Linked DNA regions of Homo sapiens. The protein of the gene in region 1 interacts with the protein of each later gene in a pairwise test. Each region holds a gene or a part of one and is shown in the gene's direction. Other genes may lie near its edges. The genes, in order: BDKRB2, AATK, SLC2A8 and SPG7.

Region 1 (4,039 bases):
GACAGATTGTTAAATGCACACAGCTCACAGCCAGCTCCTTTCAAGGTAGATTTGGGCCCAAACATTTCGGGAAGCATCAGGCTGTGCCCCGCCATCCCTACCAAACAGGAATCCTCTCGAGGGAAAAGACTGGGCCTTTCCCTCAGCCCCTAGCACCCACTCATGCTTGGCACCTGCTGTGCTCTAAGAGTGCAGGGGTCACTCCCTGACCACAGAGGGAGGCTCTCTGGGGTTCTCCCGGAGCCTCGGAGATTGCACCTTGTGCATGCGCTGCTGCACCTGGGGTACATCACCCCCACTCTGGAGCCCACTGGCCGGTTAGCAAAGTGAGAGGTGAGAGAAGGACCTCTTGGTCTTCTTTGAACAGAAAGATCCAGAAAGCAATGGCTAGAACACAAGAACAGGTCAGGGGAGGCAGGAGAGGGTCTGCACACCTGCTACAGGTGTGCTCACACGTGGGCCAGGGCCTGCAGATGAGGGATCTGTGCTGATCATTTGTGATAGCCAAAAGTAGTGAAAACCTGGGGGGACTCCTCAAATGAACTGTAGCACATTGGGGAGATGGACTCTGTGAAGATGATTCCTCTCTCCACCCACTTCCCTTCTCCCTCCTCCTCCCGCTCCTCCTTTTTCGGAAGCCAGGCACAGGGATTGAATCCCACCCCATTCCTCCCCTGCTGTGTGACCTAGGGCAAGAGATGTGGTCTCTGGGATCCTTCGGTTCCTTCAGCTATAAATAGTAGTAGAATTGCAAACTACCTACGAAAACTGGGAACTCCCTGCGAAGGCCGGTGCATTACAGGGCAGTCCTACTCTGAAATACTGTGAGGCTATTGAAAAGCAAGGTGGGTCGACAGATTGTTAAATGCAAAGAGGTGAGGACACAGCCGGCGGTGCATTTAGGGTGCTTCTGCAGGCGTCCTTATACATGGATATGTGCACATCTGCTCCTGAAAGCTCAGAAGATGTCTGGAAAGCAACAGGAGACACCAGTGAGCCTGGCTGTCTCTTGAGGCAACAGGCAGGGACAGAATCTGGAGGGAGACCTACCCCTCACTGTATTCTTTTTCGCACTCTGAAATGTTACCATGAGGATGCATATCTCTTTGCAAAAATTTAAATATAAAAAGCAAAACAAACTTGAATAGAAATAAACTACTTGAAAATTTTAGAAAACACTGTTACATCAAAGAGACAGATCATCAAAACTGAAATTATAGATATTTGAGAAACAACTAACTATAAGAACACTGCTTACCAAACTTATGGGATGCAGCCAAAGCCATAGTCAGGGGATGAGTCATGCCTTTAAATTTTTAAATTATTAAACCAAAAAGATTGCAAAAAAAAACTGTTCAATTCAATAAACTAGATAATAATGATCCAAAAAAGTAGAAGAAAGAAAAGAATTACAAAAACAAAATGACAAGTTAGAAAGGTAAAAAGCATTAATGTCAGTAGGCCATCTAAGGATGGCTCTTTGAAGAGCAGACAGGAGAAGGGCAATCCCAGGAAGTGCTATGTGCTATGCAGAGAATTAGAATAAGTTGATGGCAGAGATCAGTGGGTGGCGGCTCACTTGGGTGGTAAAGAGTAGCCTGCAGCCAAAGTTGGGCACAGCAGTGCAGTCTTCACTGGGGGAATGCCTGGGAAACAAGATTTGCCTGGGTAGGAGTTTCCATCAGCACCCCCAGAAAGGTCTCCTTTCTACCCTGGCCCCCAGTTCTTTGATGGGTTTTGCTGATGCTCCTGTGTCTCTGAACAGCAGGCGCCTCACCTATAGAAAGGTAGGATAGCAGGAGTTAACGCCCCCTCCCCCATTCCATGGCCCCTGCCTGGGATTCTACCATCTCTGCTTCATATGCTTTATAGGAGTTCGGTCTGAGCCCACAACCCAAACAGGCTCACAGATGTGCTAGCTATTTCGCCACCAGTATTTTTTTAATAGTCAATATTTAGAAATTGGCACCAACTGGCCCGATTGTTCAACAGTCCTGGGTTAGGTTACTAGGCCAATTACTTGCTGAGTAACCCAGGACAGGTCACTGACCTCTCCGAACCTCTCCTTTCTCACCTGTGTGATAAAGACTACTGCTGTGCCAACACAATAGGACTGTGTATGAAAGTACCCAGACTGTGCCTAGACTCAGGAAGCTGGTTTATTCCTTCCTCCCCTAACCACTTACTGAGAGACTGCTCAGGGCTCCCCTCAGCTCAGAGATCTTTCCCCACAAGGAGCTGAGAGCCTGGTGGGAGAGACAGGCAGAGACCCAAGTGGTTCTAACACAGCTCTCTGAATCTGTAACCCCAAGTCCCATCCCCAGAGGACACTGGGACAGTCACACTGATGGTTTGTCCCTAAGCCTCCAGCATCAGGAGCCATGTGGCAGGATCTCCACTCTTCTTCTTCCTGGGCCTCTGTCTGGACCGACCCAAACACACACACACACACACACACACACACACACACACACGTGTACACACACAAGTTGCTTCTTTGCTGCCTGCATGTCCTCACACCAGCTTATGACACACCTACAATGTTTGATGTGTCATTGTGGGCAGGTTTCAAGTTGGAGGACCTAGACCTAGGTAAAGTAGAGGGTCTCCCTAAGTAAGGGAGGGTGCACAGTGGAGAGAAAGGGTAGGGGAGACTGCCCAGTGCCATTGACATATGCCTGAGCCCCAGGGCACCCTTGGCCCCCCAAAACAATCACAAGTATCCCCCCCGACAAACCTGCCAAGTAGGCATTGTGTCTCCACTTGACAGTTGAGGAAATGGTCCCTAGAGGGGAGACAGAGCTAGCTAGAGACTGGGCTGGCCCTGGAGCCTGGCCTGGGTCTTCCCATCGCATCCTGCCTCCCTACATAAGCAAAGGTCGAGAGGTGGGAACTCCCAAAGATGCTCAGGCAGGGCCAGGGGAGACCAGTGGGGCAGGGAGGGGACAGGAGGGGAAGGAGGAGCTGGGGCTGGAGAGATGGGTAGGAGCATGAGTCCCTTGCCTGGGCCTCCCCATGGTGGGCGGTGATCCAAAAGCCCCAGTCAGAGCCCTCTGCCCTGTGACGGGGGCACCCTGCATGTCCCCTCACTCCCTGCCCTCCAGTCCCCGCCAGTCCTCATGTTTTCCATGAGGATGAGTACAGCCGCAGGGACTTTCCCTGCAAGTGGTCTGGGCCATATCTTCCGGGAGTCTGTTTGGACTGTGGTGTCTGTGGCTGAGGGGGTGGAGGTGAGGGCACCCAGGCCCATCACTTGACAGAACAATCTGTGGATTTGGGGGAAAGAGGAGGCGACTGTCATTCCTGAGAGAGGACGGGAACCAACAGGAAGGATTCCTGAGTGCCAGGGATGACCACACTGGATCCTCACAACAGCCCTCCTGCCGGGGACAATGCTCCTTATCCCACAAGCGGGGACCTGGGCTCTGACAGGAGGCCACACACTTACAGTCCCTCCCTTAGTGACCGGCAGAGCTGGGATTTGAACACCCCTGGTGAGACTCCCTCGTCCAGACCCCTTCGTTGTACAGCAGGTTTGCCTCACATGCCAGAGTCGGGGTGGCCTCAGGGCACAGCCAGGAGATGTCCCCAAATCCCGAAATGTGGTTTGAGTCCCAGTCCCTCATCTCTCCAGCCTCCAAGCCCTCACCTATGCAATGGTGCCTTGCCCGGCTCACAGGTTATGAAAAGGGGTGAGACGAGACAGTGTCCCCTAAATACATCTGACAGCACTTTTGAATGGAAAAGAGAAAAAGAAAATACTATAAGCATCCAGATTGACTGGAGGTTGGGGAGTTGGTGGGGGCGGGGACAGGCAATCCATAAAGCAAGAAAAATCAGGCTGGGTTCAGGCTTTTCTGCAGCAGCGAATGCATCAGAGCTGCCAGGGGGGCAGCTGTAGACCTAAGAGAGTTCCTTTAAGCACAAATTGGCTGATTATCTTTTTTACGTAAATAAACCCATAATTCATTCCAAACACTTGGCTTATTTAAATATTTTTATTGCCAAAGGAATATATGTTCTTCACAGAAAACTTGGA
Region 2 (4,039 bases), on another chromosome or scaffold:
ACCTGCTCCTCCTAGGAGCCACCCCAGCCCCGACGGTCCCTTCTTCAGTCTCTGGGCCCTGCTGGACCCTTCCCCAGGGAGGTCCTCAGCATCTGGCTGCATCCCCTTCTCCCTAGGGGGTCCTGGGGTCAGAGGTACCTGGGGAGGGGCCCTGGGAGGGAGAGGAGCAGCCTCTTGCTCATGGCCTTCCCCTGACCTTGGCCTAAACGAGACACCTGGGTCCCTCTTCCTCACTTCAAACCCCCAGAGAGAGAGAGAGAGAGGGCAGCGGGGGACCTTGTGGGGAGAGTAACACGAAAGACTCAGAATATTACAGCCAGAGGGTTGCCGGGAGGGATCCGGAAGCCATACCTCACGCTGCAATGAGTGGACGGGGCACAGGAGGAGAAGTGTCCTGTCCTGGGGGCCGGCGTGGGGCGGGTGGGAGAAGAGTAAGGCCTGGAAGCCGGGGCCGGTGGAGGCGGAGCAGCCGTGGGTGATGCTGTCTGTCCCACAGGTGTTCCTGGGGGAGGTGAACTCTGGCATCAGCAGTGCCCAGGTGGTGGTGAAGGAGCTGCAGGCTAGTGCCAGCGTGCAGGAGCAGATGCAGTTCCTGGAGGAGGTGCAGCCCTACAGGTGGGAGGCCACCGGGCACAAAGGCCTGTGCTGTGCGGCCCCCTCCTCTCCCTCCCCTGCTCGGCCCGACTCCCCCTCCCCACCTCCTCCCAAGTCAGGGGCCGCCTGTCCACTCCCGCAGGGCCCTGAAGCACAGCAACCTGCTCCAGTGCCTGGCCCAGTGCGCCGAGGTGACGCCCTACCTGCTGGTGATGGAGTTCTGCCCACTGGTGAGCTGCTGCCCGGGGGGATGCTGGGGTCTTTGCTGAGCCGGGGCCCTCCCTTGCCCTGCCAGTGTCTGGTGCCACCCCCTCCTTGGGGGCCTCACATCCTCCCTAAAGCCAAGACCCAGGGACCCTGCCCCCACCACCTTCCAGAGGAGGCGATGGGGAGACCTAGCCTCACCAGGGAGGGACTGTGGGGGCTGGGCACAGAACAGGCCTGGGCTGGGGCTCCCTGCACCCCTGGGGAGCTGCCAGCTGCTTGGTCACCTGCTTGTGTGCCCTGTGGTTCAGGAGGAGGCATCCTGGGCCAACTGGGGGGGGGCACTGGCCCACTTGGGCTCCACGGCCTCACTCAGGCTTGCTTTTGCCATGGGGGGCTGGGCCTGGCCACTTCCCCAGGCTGCCTGGAGTTCTGGGCCTGCCCATCAACGCCCCCCGCCCCGGGGACCTGTCCCCCCCTCCCCCTGAGACCTGCCCATCAACGCCCCCCTGCCCCGGGGACCCGTCTCCCCCTCCCCCGAGACCTGCCCCCCACCCCCTTCCACATATGCAGCTCCTGCACTGAGCCGAGGCTGTCTGTGGCTGGGCTGGATCCCCTGCTGGCTTCCCTCGGGACAGGGGCCCTCACACACTGGCGTCTGGACTCCTGACGTTGACCGTCCCGGGGCTGGGCTTTCGGCAGGTCAGGGGCTGCCGGCCAACCCTCGACCACCAGCCCCAGACTCCATCAAGCAGATCCACTTGGGCCCTGTGTTTCTCTCTCTACCACAGGCCAAGGGACTCCTGCTGCCCGGGGCTGGCTGAGGGGCAGTGGAGAGGAAGCCTTCAGTCCAGCCCAGCCCTGGGGGACACGGCCCCCCTCCAGGAACTGCTGGGTGCTGGCCACTGTGCAGGGCACGAGGCTGCTCTGGGCAGCTGCTGTCCCTCAGCTGTGGGTAGGGGTGGAGGAGTTGGGGAGGTAGGTGGGGACCTCCCAGGGTGGCCAGCCCCCAGCCTGCTGGTGACTGCGCCACACCCCCTTTCTGCAGGGGGACCTCAAGGGCTACCTGCGGAGCTGCCGGGTGGCGGAGTCCATGGCTCCCGACCCCCGGACCCTGCAGCGCATGGCCTGTGAGGTGGCCTGTGGCGTCCTGCACCTTCATCGCAACAATTTCGTGCACAGGTGAGGGCGGGCGCGGGCCAGCGGCCGGGAAGCCCTAGGCCAGGCCCCTCCCCTGAAGGAAGGGCATAGGGCGGGTCCTGCCTCAGGGGGCTTGCGAGGACCGGCCAGGTTCATCTCATGCAGCATCAGACAACCACTATGCAGAGGGATTTTATGACGTTTTTGAAAAATTGGGAAGACAATGGTTTGACACCCACTTTGCAGGTTTAGACGAAGAGATGCGTACTGTCAAGCTGGCCTGTTCTCTGTCCCCGAGGCAGTCAGCCAGCACCCTGCAGCCCCGCGCCAACCCCACACTCTGCTAAGCCCTCGCTTTGGGGCTTGAGGGAGACAGACCCTGCTTCGAAGGACCCTGGAGGGAGGGTTCTGTCCTGCTTGGGCCAGGATGCCCAGCCCCTGGGGACCCCGGGGGGACATGCTGGAAGAAGTGGCGAAGGACACGTGGCCCCGTCAGCCCCAGACGCCGCACGGCTGTCCTCTCCAACAATATCCTGGTGCTGAGTGATGACTCAGGCGACTCCAGCATCAGTGATTTTGTTGAAGAGGGCAGCTGCCAGCCTCCCGACCTGCCTGCCGGGCCCCAGCTGCCCTGCCCCCAACCCCAACCCACCCCACTCCACCCCCTAGGCCCAGGACACATGGCCCTGTAGCGATCCCCTGGCACGCAGACATGGGTTTTATGTGGGGAGGGACAGGCTGGGTTGGCCTCTGTCCCCACCCTGAGTCCTGAGCACAGAAGTAATACGGCAGCTGTGGTAATATCTACCCAGTACCCTGTGCCTCCTCACACCCACGTGACCAGCCAGGCAGGGTTCAAAGCCAGCAGCCAAGGCAGGCTGGGTTGGAGGTAGTGCCAGGCGTAACCTGCATTCTTTCCAGACCCTACCCAACCCTGGGGCCAGTGGTGGCTCAAGTGAGAGTGAGCTCCAGCTCTGAGTGGGCATGGCAGGGCTGGACCCTAAAACTGGACTCCGGCAGCCGGCAGGACCCCTGGGACACTCCAGGCCTCAGTTTCCCCATCAATTCCCACCTCCTGGGGAGCCGAGAGTGATAGTGTAGTAGAGCTAGGAGGAGAGGGTCCTGGAGAAGCGTGGACCGGTCCGGGTGGGTTCCGGCAGGTTCTCACCCTCTCTAGGCCCCATTCTCCTCTGCACTGTAACATTTGAGGCCCACGCACACAGTCCCTCCCCAGGTCTCAGGGTTGGGCACAGAGTAGGGCCCTGGGCAGGGATGGGGGGTGGCAGTGTCTCCAACGCCCCTTCCAGCCTGGACTGTGAGCCATCCAAGTGTTGGCAAAGGACCCTGTGCTGGATGCCCCCGCCCGGCACACCCCACTGACCCTCCCCCTGCCCCCACCCGGCACACCCTGCTCACCCTGCTCACCCTGCCCCTGCCCCTGCCCCTGCCTGCAGCGACCTGGCCCTGCGGAACTGCCTGCTCACGGCTGACCTGACGGTGAAGATTGGTGACTATGGCCTGGCTCACTGCAAGTACAGAGTGAGTGGGGTGGGGTGGGCTGGGCTGGGCATGAGGGGCAGGGCCTGCGCCGGCAGGGGTGACCCGTCCCTGTGCCAACAGGAGGACTACTTCGTGACTGCCGACCAGCTGTGGGTGCCTCTGCGCTGGATCGCGCCAGAGCTGGTGGACGAGGTGCATAGCAACCTGCTCGTCGTGGACCAGACCAAGAGCGGGAATGTGTGGTGAGTGCGGCCCTGGTGGCACCGTGAGGGGCCGAGGCCGAGTGCCACCTGCCCACCCATGTCAAATCATGGCCATGAGTAGTGAGGTCAGGGGGCTGCCGGAGCCACCTGTAGTGGCCACACGCCAGCAGCCCAAGTGGCTGGTTGGGTGGCGACCCCACACCGGGGGAGATACCACCCTGACAGGGTGCCCCAGGGACCCCATGGTGGGGTCAAGGCATACGTACAGGGCCAACGGCCCGTCTTCAGCATGCCGGGGGGTCTGTCCTGAGACGGGGGCCTTGGTGAGTACCTGTCCCTGGGGAGAGGGTCTGGGTGGGGTGTTGGCTGCCTTCACGGGAGCGTAGGTCGGGCCGTGC
Region 3 (3,500 bases), on another chromosome or scaffold:
TTTTTTTTTTTTTTTGAGACAGAGTCCCGCTCTGTCGCCCAGGCTGGAGTGCAGTGGTGGCTCTCTGCAACCTCTGCCTCCTGGGTTCAAGCGATTCTCCTGTCTCAGCTTCCCAAGTAGCTGGGACTACAGGCATGTGCCACCACACCTGGCTAATTGTTTGTATTTTTGGTAGAAAGGGGGTTTCACCGTGTTAGCCAGGATGGTCTTGATCTCCTGACCTCATGAACCGCCAAACCTCAGCTTCCCAAAGTGCTGGGATTACAGGTGTGAGCCACCGCGCCCGGCCGATAGGTGTGTCTTATGACTGAGTTCCAGGGACAGCTGGAGAAGGTGATACCCTCAGCTTTCCTGAAGCCCCCTCTAGGGGTGTGGGAAGGGCTGACTGCTTAGGTCAGTACCTTACTGTGCAGTGACAAACCAGAGGGCTCCAGAGGTGGGTGGGTCCCTGTAAAAATCTTCAGCCCGGGCGAGTAAAGGGCTGAGCAAGTCCCCTGAGAATGTCAGTGCCAGATTCACCATGTCGGCGAGTTGCAACGTGAAGGAGGCCGGGGTCCTGGGGACCCCGAGGGGCAAAGCTGGGCCAGCATGAAGAAACTTCAGGAGACAGGTGTGTTCTCATTAGAAAGAGGCCAGGCTTTAGAGGCCAGACCCAGTGGCTCACACCTGTAATCCCAGCACTTTGGGAGGCAGAGGTGGGCGGATCACTTGAGGTCAGGAGTTCGAGATCAGCCTGGCCAACATGGTGAAAACCCATTTCTATTTAAAATACAAAAATTAGCCAGGCGTGGTGGTGGGCACCTGTAATCCCAGCTACCTGGGGGGCTGAGGCACAAGAATTGCTTGAACCCAGAAGGCTGAGGTTTCAGTGAGCTGAGATCGCGCCACTGCACTCCAGTGTGGGCGACACAGTGAGACTCTGTCTCAAAAAGAAAGAAAAAACAAGGGCAGGCTTCAAATCTGACCATCCTGAGTTTGGGGATAGCCTCTCCTACGTGCTGTGTGACCTTGGCCAAGTCATACCACCTCTGAAAGCCTCAGTTTCTCTGTCTTGAAATGGGCATAACCTCATCTAGTCCAGTACCTGTCCATTAAATTAATTGACACATGAAAAGTGCCTAACAGTGGGTTCCAAATGAGAATTGTCAAGGGATGACTTGAGAACCATGGGGATCATCGGGGTAGGAGGCCTCGGGGGCCTGACGGGCTATGGCCTGGCCCAGGGCACAAGCCCTCTGCATCGTCAGGGCGGATGATACACAGGTCTTTGGTGTTTCATTTTTACCCACTTAACCACCCTAACAAATTCAGAATCCTGCCAGCGATCTGGCTACCTTGGGAGACCTGAGTAAACCAAAGCCCCCACTGTGTGCAGGTGTTGACATTCATCATTTCGGGGACAGGTACTGGGTGTCCACCCACCCGTGGCACTATCTTCAGCTCATCTTAATATGTGCTTGTTGCTTCTCCTGCCTTTCCTGATCAATTTCTGTGAGTTTCGATCCACTGGGGTGGGTGAACTCTGATAACTCCACAAAGTGACATGGTGGTGGCACGTTTGCTTCACATTGGGGCAATCATGTTCCAACGACTAGACTTCATAGAACAATTGTCTGCACCCCCAGCACAGAAGAAAAATAGGGACATCATGGCTACCTTAGAGGTATTTTTCCACTGGGAACCAGGGATGGGTAAGCCTTGGGCTTAGGAAAAATTAGTAATTAGAGCAGCAATGCCCTAGACTCATTTATTCCAGGGCCCCTTTGTAAGAGAACCTTTTAACTTTATATAAAACTAGGTAATTCTGCACTTATGCTGTTCTTCATACGTCAAGACAGCAAAATCCTCTCACCTCTCTACTTTCATGTATACTTTGAATAGATAATGCATTCAAATGACTCAACACTCAAGTGCCAGAGTGGAGAGATGTCCAGTGAAAAGCTTCCTCCGCCTCTGTCCCTTTCTTGTCTGGGGGAGTCCCCATTGCCTGTTTCTTGGTAGCCTTCAGAGAGTCTGTTCATATGAGGGACATGCATATTTATCCTCCCTCCCCCACCTCTTCTACAAATGGTGCCACATCATACCATGCGGACACGCAGCAAGCACCTCATCCTTCATTTTTGTGGCTACATAAATGTTTCGTTGAACGGATGCAGCCTAGTAATGTCCGCGTTGTCATACCCACTGTCGCTTCCGCAGCTGGTGTGATTGGCCCGTGCCATGTGCCTTCATGAACAGTTGTGATAATGGCAATGTCAGTAGCGAACATGAGGGCAGATGTGCAGAGGCAGCGAGGCCCCATCTCTGAAGCTGAGTCTTTGAGGCTGGCAAGGCCCAGGCTGGCTCACCCTGGCTCTGACGCCAGCCTCCTCCACCCACCCCCCGCAGGCTGGGTGCTGGAGTGGCGCTGGCTGGCTGTGCTGGGCTGCGTGCCCCCCTCCCTCATGCTGCTTCTCATGTGCTTCATGCCCGAGACCCCGCGCTTCCTGCTGACTCAGCACAGGCGCCAGGAGGCCATGGCCGCCCTGCGGTTCCTGTGGGGCTCCGAGCAGGGCTGGGAAGACCCCCCCATCGGGGCTGAGCAGGTGAGAGGCTGGAAGGCAGAGCTGACAGGAGTGGGACAGCAGTCACGGGAGGGTAGCACAGCCTGTTCCCAAGGCCACACACTTGGGGGGTGGGGGACAGGGAGGTGCCTATCCACCCTCCACCCTCAGCGAGGACAGGCCCAGTGTGTCCTGTCTTTGAGCAGGCCAAGACAGCTGGAGCCCCACGGAGCTGGGCCCTGGCCTCCAAAGTCACCAGCAAAGCCCGAGCTTTGACCCTTACTGTCCCAGGAAGAGAATGGCCAGGCCTGGTGGGGGATACAGAGGCAGAGCTGAGGACTTGGATTTAACAAAGGAGTTGCAAGGCAGGGTAGAGGGCTAAAAGTCTGGGTTTTAGAGTCACCCAGGCATGGGTTTGAAGCCCCCACGCTGCCCCTCACCTAAGCTTTAGCTCTTCACCTGTGATGTGGGAGTCAGCACCTGCTTCACAGTGCTGGGTGGGACTCAGTGGGGGAAAGGAAGGCGGGGCTTAGGGAGGAGGGGGGCTCAGTGGGGAGGGTGGGGTCAGCGAGGAGGATGGGTTCAGTGGGGAGGGGAGGGTCAGGGCTGTAGGAGGTGCTTAGCTAGGGCCAGGCCCAGACCTGAGGCAGGTGCTGGATGTGTTGGTGGTGGCAGGGATGAGGGCAGCAGCTTGCTCTTTGCCCAGATTACCTCTTTGTGGCTCCCCCCCACCTATCAGGAAGTGCCCTGGGCAGGTGAGGGTCATCTCACCTGACACATGGGGAGGCTGGGACTTGTCTGCACACCTGAGGACACAGGGGGTGCTGGGATGAGGAGCCAAGACGTGGGAGTCAGCGCTCCCCAAGCCTTAGGACAGTAGACCCCCAGAGGGGGGCCGCTTGCGGGAGGGGAGAGAGAAATCCTGATGGCCAGTATCCGTCAGAGCAGAGCTTTCAC
Region 4 (4,039 bases), on another chromosome or scaffold:
CGGCTCACTGCAGCCTTGATCTCCTGGGCTCAGGTGATCTACCCACCTCAGCCTCCCCTGTAGCTGGGATGGCAGGCGCGCACCACCACACTTGGCTAATTTTTAAATTTTTTGTTTTTTTGGAGAGATGAGGTCTCACTATATTGCCCAGGCTGGTCTTGAACTCCTGGCCTCAAGTGATCCTTACACCTTGGCCTTCCAAAGTGCCAGATCACAGGCGTCAGCCACCACGCCTGGCGCTGTCTTGCTATTTTTAAAAACAGGAAACCTTGTTCTTAAAATACACCATGGCTAAGTGCAGAAGACGGTGCTCATTCACGTAAATCCTCTGGTGGATGCCTGATTATTTCAGTCTGGAAGGTTATTTTAACCTACAACACTATGCTCAGCTCTAGACGAGTCACCTGATAAAACAGCTGCCTTAAAGAGAAAATGCTCAGAATTCTGTCTTAGCAGTTTGGGGTGTGAGTGAGGGAGCAGCAGGTGCCATCCCCACCCCTCATCCCTGTCCTCTGCTGGAGTTTCCAGTTAACCTCAAAGAGAGTCCCGCAAGTCCGTCTGTGTCCTCCCTTTGGGGTGTTGCCGTCCAGTCATGCTGAAATCTGAGCTAAACATGCGGAGTTTACTTAGGAAAACGCTGCGTTTGGAGAATCGTGTGCCAGGGAGACGGACCTGTTGGTGTCCTGGTGTGAGGGATGAACAGTCTCAGGTTTTGTGGTTAAACATGAACCCTCTGTGGCCGCAGTTTCCTAAAACATCTGTTTTTGGCCGTAGTCTTGATTTTGCCATCCTCAGTCCCGTGCTGCAGCCTCGCCGGCCTCTGGGGGGCTCCTGCTGTGTCTGCAGGTGTAGCTGAGTCTGAGGCACACATCAGACGTGGGGCTGTGAGCTAACTTGCAGACATCCCTCCATTTCTTAGTTTTCCTATGAGTGGAAAATAGAAAGTCTATCTGTTGAAATTTTATTTCTCAAATTGTGGTTGAGGAAACAAATTTTTTAGACTTGGAAGTACAGATGTTCCTTGAATTAGGATATTTTCAGCTTCCCAGGGGCTCACTGGGAGGTAGCCCCATCGTAGGTCAAGGAGCTTAGTGTGCATATTGCTTTTACACCATTGTAAAATGGAAAGACCGTAAGTGGAACCGTCGTACGTTAGGAATCACCTCTAGTTTCTGAATGGTGTCCTCTTCACAATGCTGAGGTTGTCATTACCATGAGTTCCAGGCGGGCTCTCTGTTGACTGTAGGGTTGCTCGTCTGTCCCTGCGTTTCTCATGGTCCCCTCTCCTTTCTGCCCCCCAGCGGCTAGCCTTGATGTACCGAATGCAGGTTGCAAATATTGACAAGTTTGAAGAGAAGCTTCGAGCAGCTGAAGATGAGCTGAATATCGAGGCCAAGGACAGGATCCCAGTTTCCTACAAGCGAACAGGATTCTTTGGAAAGTATGTTGGATGTATTTGTTGATGCTTGAACTAAACCTAACTTGGCTTTGTAATCTGAGAAACAGATTGCAATCAAAAATCTCAAACTGTCTTTGCCTATAGTTAACTAGACTTTTTAGTGGGAGGGTTAAATAAATATAGAAGTGAATGATACAATGCCAGGAGATTTGGAAATATAGTTATCCCTGGGTATCCATGGGGGCTGGTTCTCGGACTTCCCAAGGATACCAGCACCTGAGGATGCCTAAGCCCCTGGTGTAGGATGCTGAAGTCTAAGCCCCTGATGTAGATGCCGAAGTCTCAGCCCCCGACGTAAGATGCCGAAGTCTCAGCCCCCGACGTAGGATGGCGAAGTCTCAGCCCCCGACGTAGGATGCCGAAGTCTCAGCCCCCGACGTAGGATGCCGAAGTCTCAGCCCCCGACGTAGGATGCCGAAGTCTCAGCCCCCGACGTAGGATGGCGAAGTCTCAGCCCCCGACGTAGGATGGCGAAGTCTCAGCCCCCGACGTAGGATGGCGAAGTCTCAGCCCCTGGTGTAAAATGCCGAAATCTTTGTGTGTAACCTAAGAACATTCTCTGATATGCTTTAAATCATCTGTAGGTTGATAATAATACCCAATACCCTGTAAATACTATTTCAATCGTTGTTATACTTTAGGGAATAATGACAAAAATGTGTCTGTGCATGTTGAGTATAGATGCACGTTTTTCCCCAGATACATTCATTCTGTGCTTGGTTAAACCTGCAGAGATGAAACCTGTGGCTGTGGAGGCCAACCGTGTGCAAGTCCGTTGGAGTTTGTTTAGTCACTTTCTTTAGTTGTGTGGCGCTTCTGAATTCACATTCTTGTATAATTTTCACTGACTGTGCTCTTTGATGAAAGCTTCCCAAATGGTCAGAGTGAGTGTGCAGATGCCGGAGATACCTAGTGATCTGGCCAGCCTTGTGACAATAACAACGTTCAGCTTTTTCTATTTTCAGTATATTTTGTTTTCAAAAGTAAGCGATCACTTTCAGTTAGCAAGGCAAGATCAGCCTAGCAGTAAGAAAGAAAGTCAAGGAGGACCGTGATAATGTCCTGGGCTTGCTCTCTTCTACAGACAGGAAAATGGAACGGGAAAAGGGTAGACACAGGAAGGTGAAATTCTCATTTCAGTGTTGAGAGGGAAACAGACCAGGTGGGAGCTGTCAGCACGTATGGACCATGGACCCTGACAGGTTCCTTAGTAGGACAAATGAGGGGCCAGCGGGTACTGAAACAGAGGTTTATTGTTGACTTGTAATCTCTGAAGATGTAGAATGCCAGTGACTGGCAAGTACTCCCTTGATCAAAATGTACCTCTAGCCGGGTGCAGTGGCTATGCCTGTAATCCCAGCACTTTGGAAGGCTGAGGCAGGGAGGATCTCTTGAGCCCACAAGTTCGAGACCAGTCTGGGCAGCATGGAGAACCCCATCTCTACAGAAAAAAAAAAAAGATGCACCTTTAATTCTATAACCCAGCAACACCTGGAAGATCACTGCTCTGAGGCTGTGTGTCTCATGTCTTTGTAGGCCAGTGATGTACAGAAGATGGAGGGTTGGGGCAGGCCCATTCTCGTGTCTTCGTAGGCCGATGATGGACAGAAGGTGGAGGTTTGGGCCGGGCGCGGTGGCTCACGCCTGTAATTCCAGCACTTTGGGAGGCCGAGGCGGGCAGATCACGAGGTCAGGAGGTCGAGACCATCCTGGCTAACACGACGAAACCCCGTCTCTACTAAAAATACAAAAAAAATTAGCCGGGTGCGGTGGCGGGTGCCTGTAGTCCCAGCTACTCGGGAGGCTGAGGCAGGAGGATGGCGTGAACCCGGGAGGCGGAGCTTACAGTGAGCCAAGATAGCACCACTGCAGTCTGGCCTGGGTGACAGAGCCAGACTCCATCTCAAACAAAAAAAAAAAAAAAAGAAGAAGATGGAGGTTTGGGGCAGGCCCATTCTCATGTCTTCGTAGGCCGATGATGTACAGAACAGAAGATGGAGGGTTGGGGCAGGCCCATTCTCGTGTCTTTGTAGGCTGATGATGTACAGAAGATGGAGGGTTGGGGCAGGCCCAGGGCAGCCCCTCCTCAGGATGAGGGCAAAAGTCCTGGGATTTGCTTTTTTTTTTTTTTTTTTTTGGAGTCAGGGTCTCACTCTGTCGCCCAGGCTGGAGTGCAGTGGTGCAATCTCAGCTTACTGCAGCCTCGACCTCCCAGGATCAGTGATTCTCCCACCTCAGCCTCCTGAGTAGCTGGGACTACAGATGCACACCACCACATCCAGCTAAGTTTTTTTGTATTTTTAGTAGACACAGGGTTTATTCTTACATTTTTCTTTTCTTTTTGAGATGGAGTCTTGCTCTGTAGCTCAGGCTGGAGTTCAGTGGCACGATCTTGACTCACTGCAGCCTTCACCTCCTAGGTTCAAGCATTTCTCCTGCCTCAGCCTCCCAAGTAGCTGGGATTGCAGACGCATGCCACCATGTCCAGCTAATTTTTGTATTTTTTTAGTAGATATGGGGTTTTACCATGTTGGCCAGGCTGGTCTCAAACTCCTGACCTTGTGATTCACCCGCCACGGC

The links.
Region 2: the proteins of BDKRB2 (region 1) and AATK interact in a two-hybrid assay, tested with the Homo sapiens proteins (one large-scale study listed by BioGRID and IntAct).
Region 3: the proteins of BDKRB2 (region 1) and SLC2A8 interact in a two-hybrid assay, tested with the Homo sapiens proteins (one large-scale study listed by BioGRID and IntAct).
Region 4: the proteins of BDKRB2 (region 1) and SPG7 interact in a two-hybrid assay, tested with the Homo sapiens proteins (one large-scale study listed by BioGRID and IntAct).

Annotation. Positions count from the first base shown.
Region 1 is NC_000014.9:96,211,060-96,215,098, forward strand, and holds part of BDKRB2 (B2 bradykinin receptor), read left to right. Parts: intron 1-4,039. UniProt on the Homo sapiens protein: Receptor for bradykinin. It is associated with G proteins that activate a phosphatidylinositol-calcium second messenger system.
Region 2 is NC_000017.11:81,124,368-81,128,406, reverse strand, and holds part of AATK (serine/threonine-protein kinase LMTK1), read left to right. Parts: intron 1-496; coding exon 497-615; intron 616-736; coding exon 737-824; intron 825-1,846; coding exon 1,847-1,980; intron 1,981-2,451; exon of another isoform or gene 2,452-2,530; intron 2,531-3,033; exon of another isoform or gene 3,034-3,131; intron 3,132-3,392; coding exon 3,393-3,477; intron 3,478-3,558; coding exon 3,559-3,680; intron 3,681-4,039. UniProt on the Homo sapiens protein: May be involved in neuronal differentiation.
Region 3 is NC_000009.12:127,400,169-127,403,668, forward strand, and holds part of SLC2A8 (solute carrier family 2, facilitated glucose transporter member 8), read left to right. Parts: intron 1-2,388; coding exon 2,389-2,585; intron 2,586-3,491; coding exon 3,492-3,500.
Region 4 is NC_000016.10:89,525,028-89,529,066, forward strand, and holds part of SPG7 (mitochondrial inner membrane m-AAA protease component paraplegin isoform 1 precursor), read left to right. Parts: intron 1-1,301; coding exon 1,302-1,441; intron 1,442-4,039. UniProt on the Homo sapiens protein: Catalytic component of the m-AAA protease, a protease that plays a key role in proteostasis of inner mitochondrial membrane proteins, and which is essential for axonal and neuron development.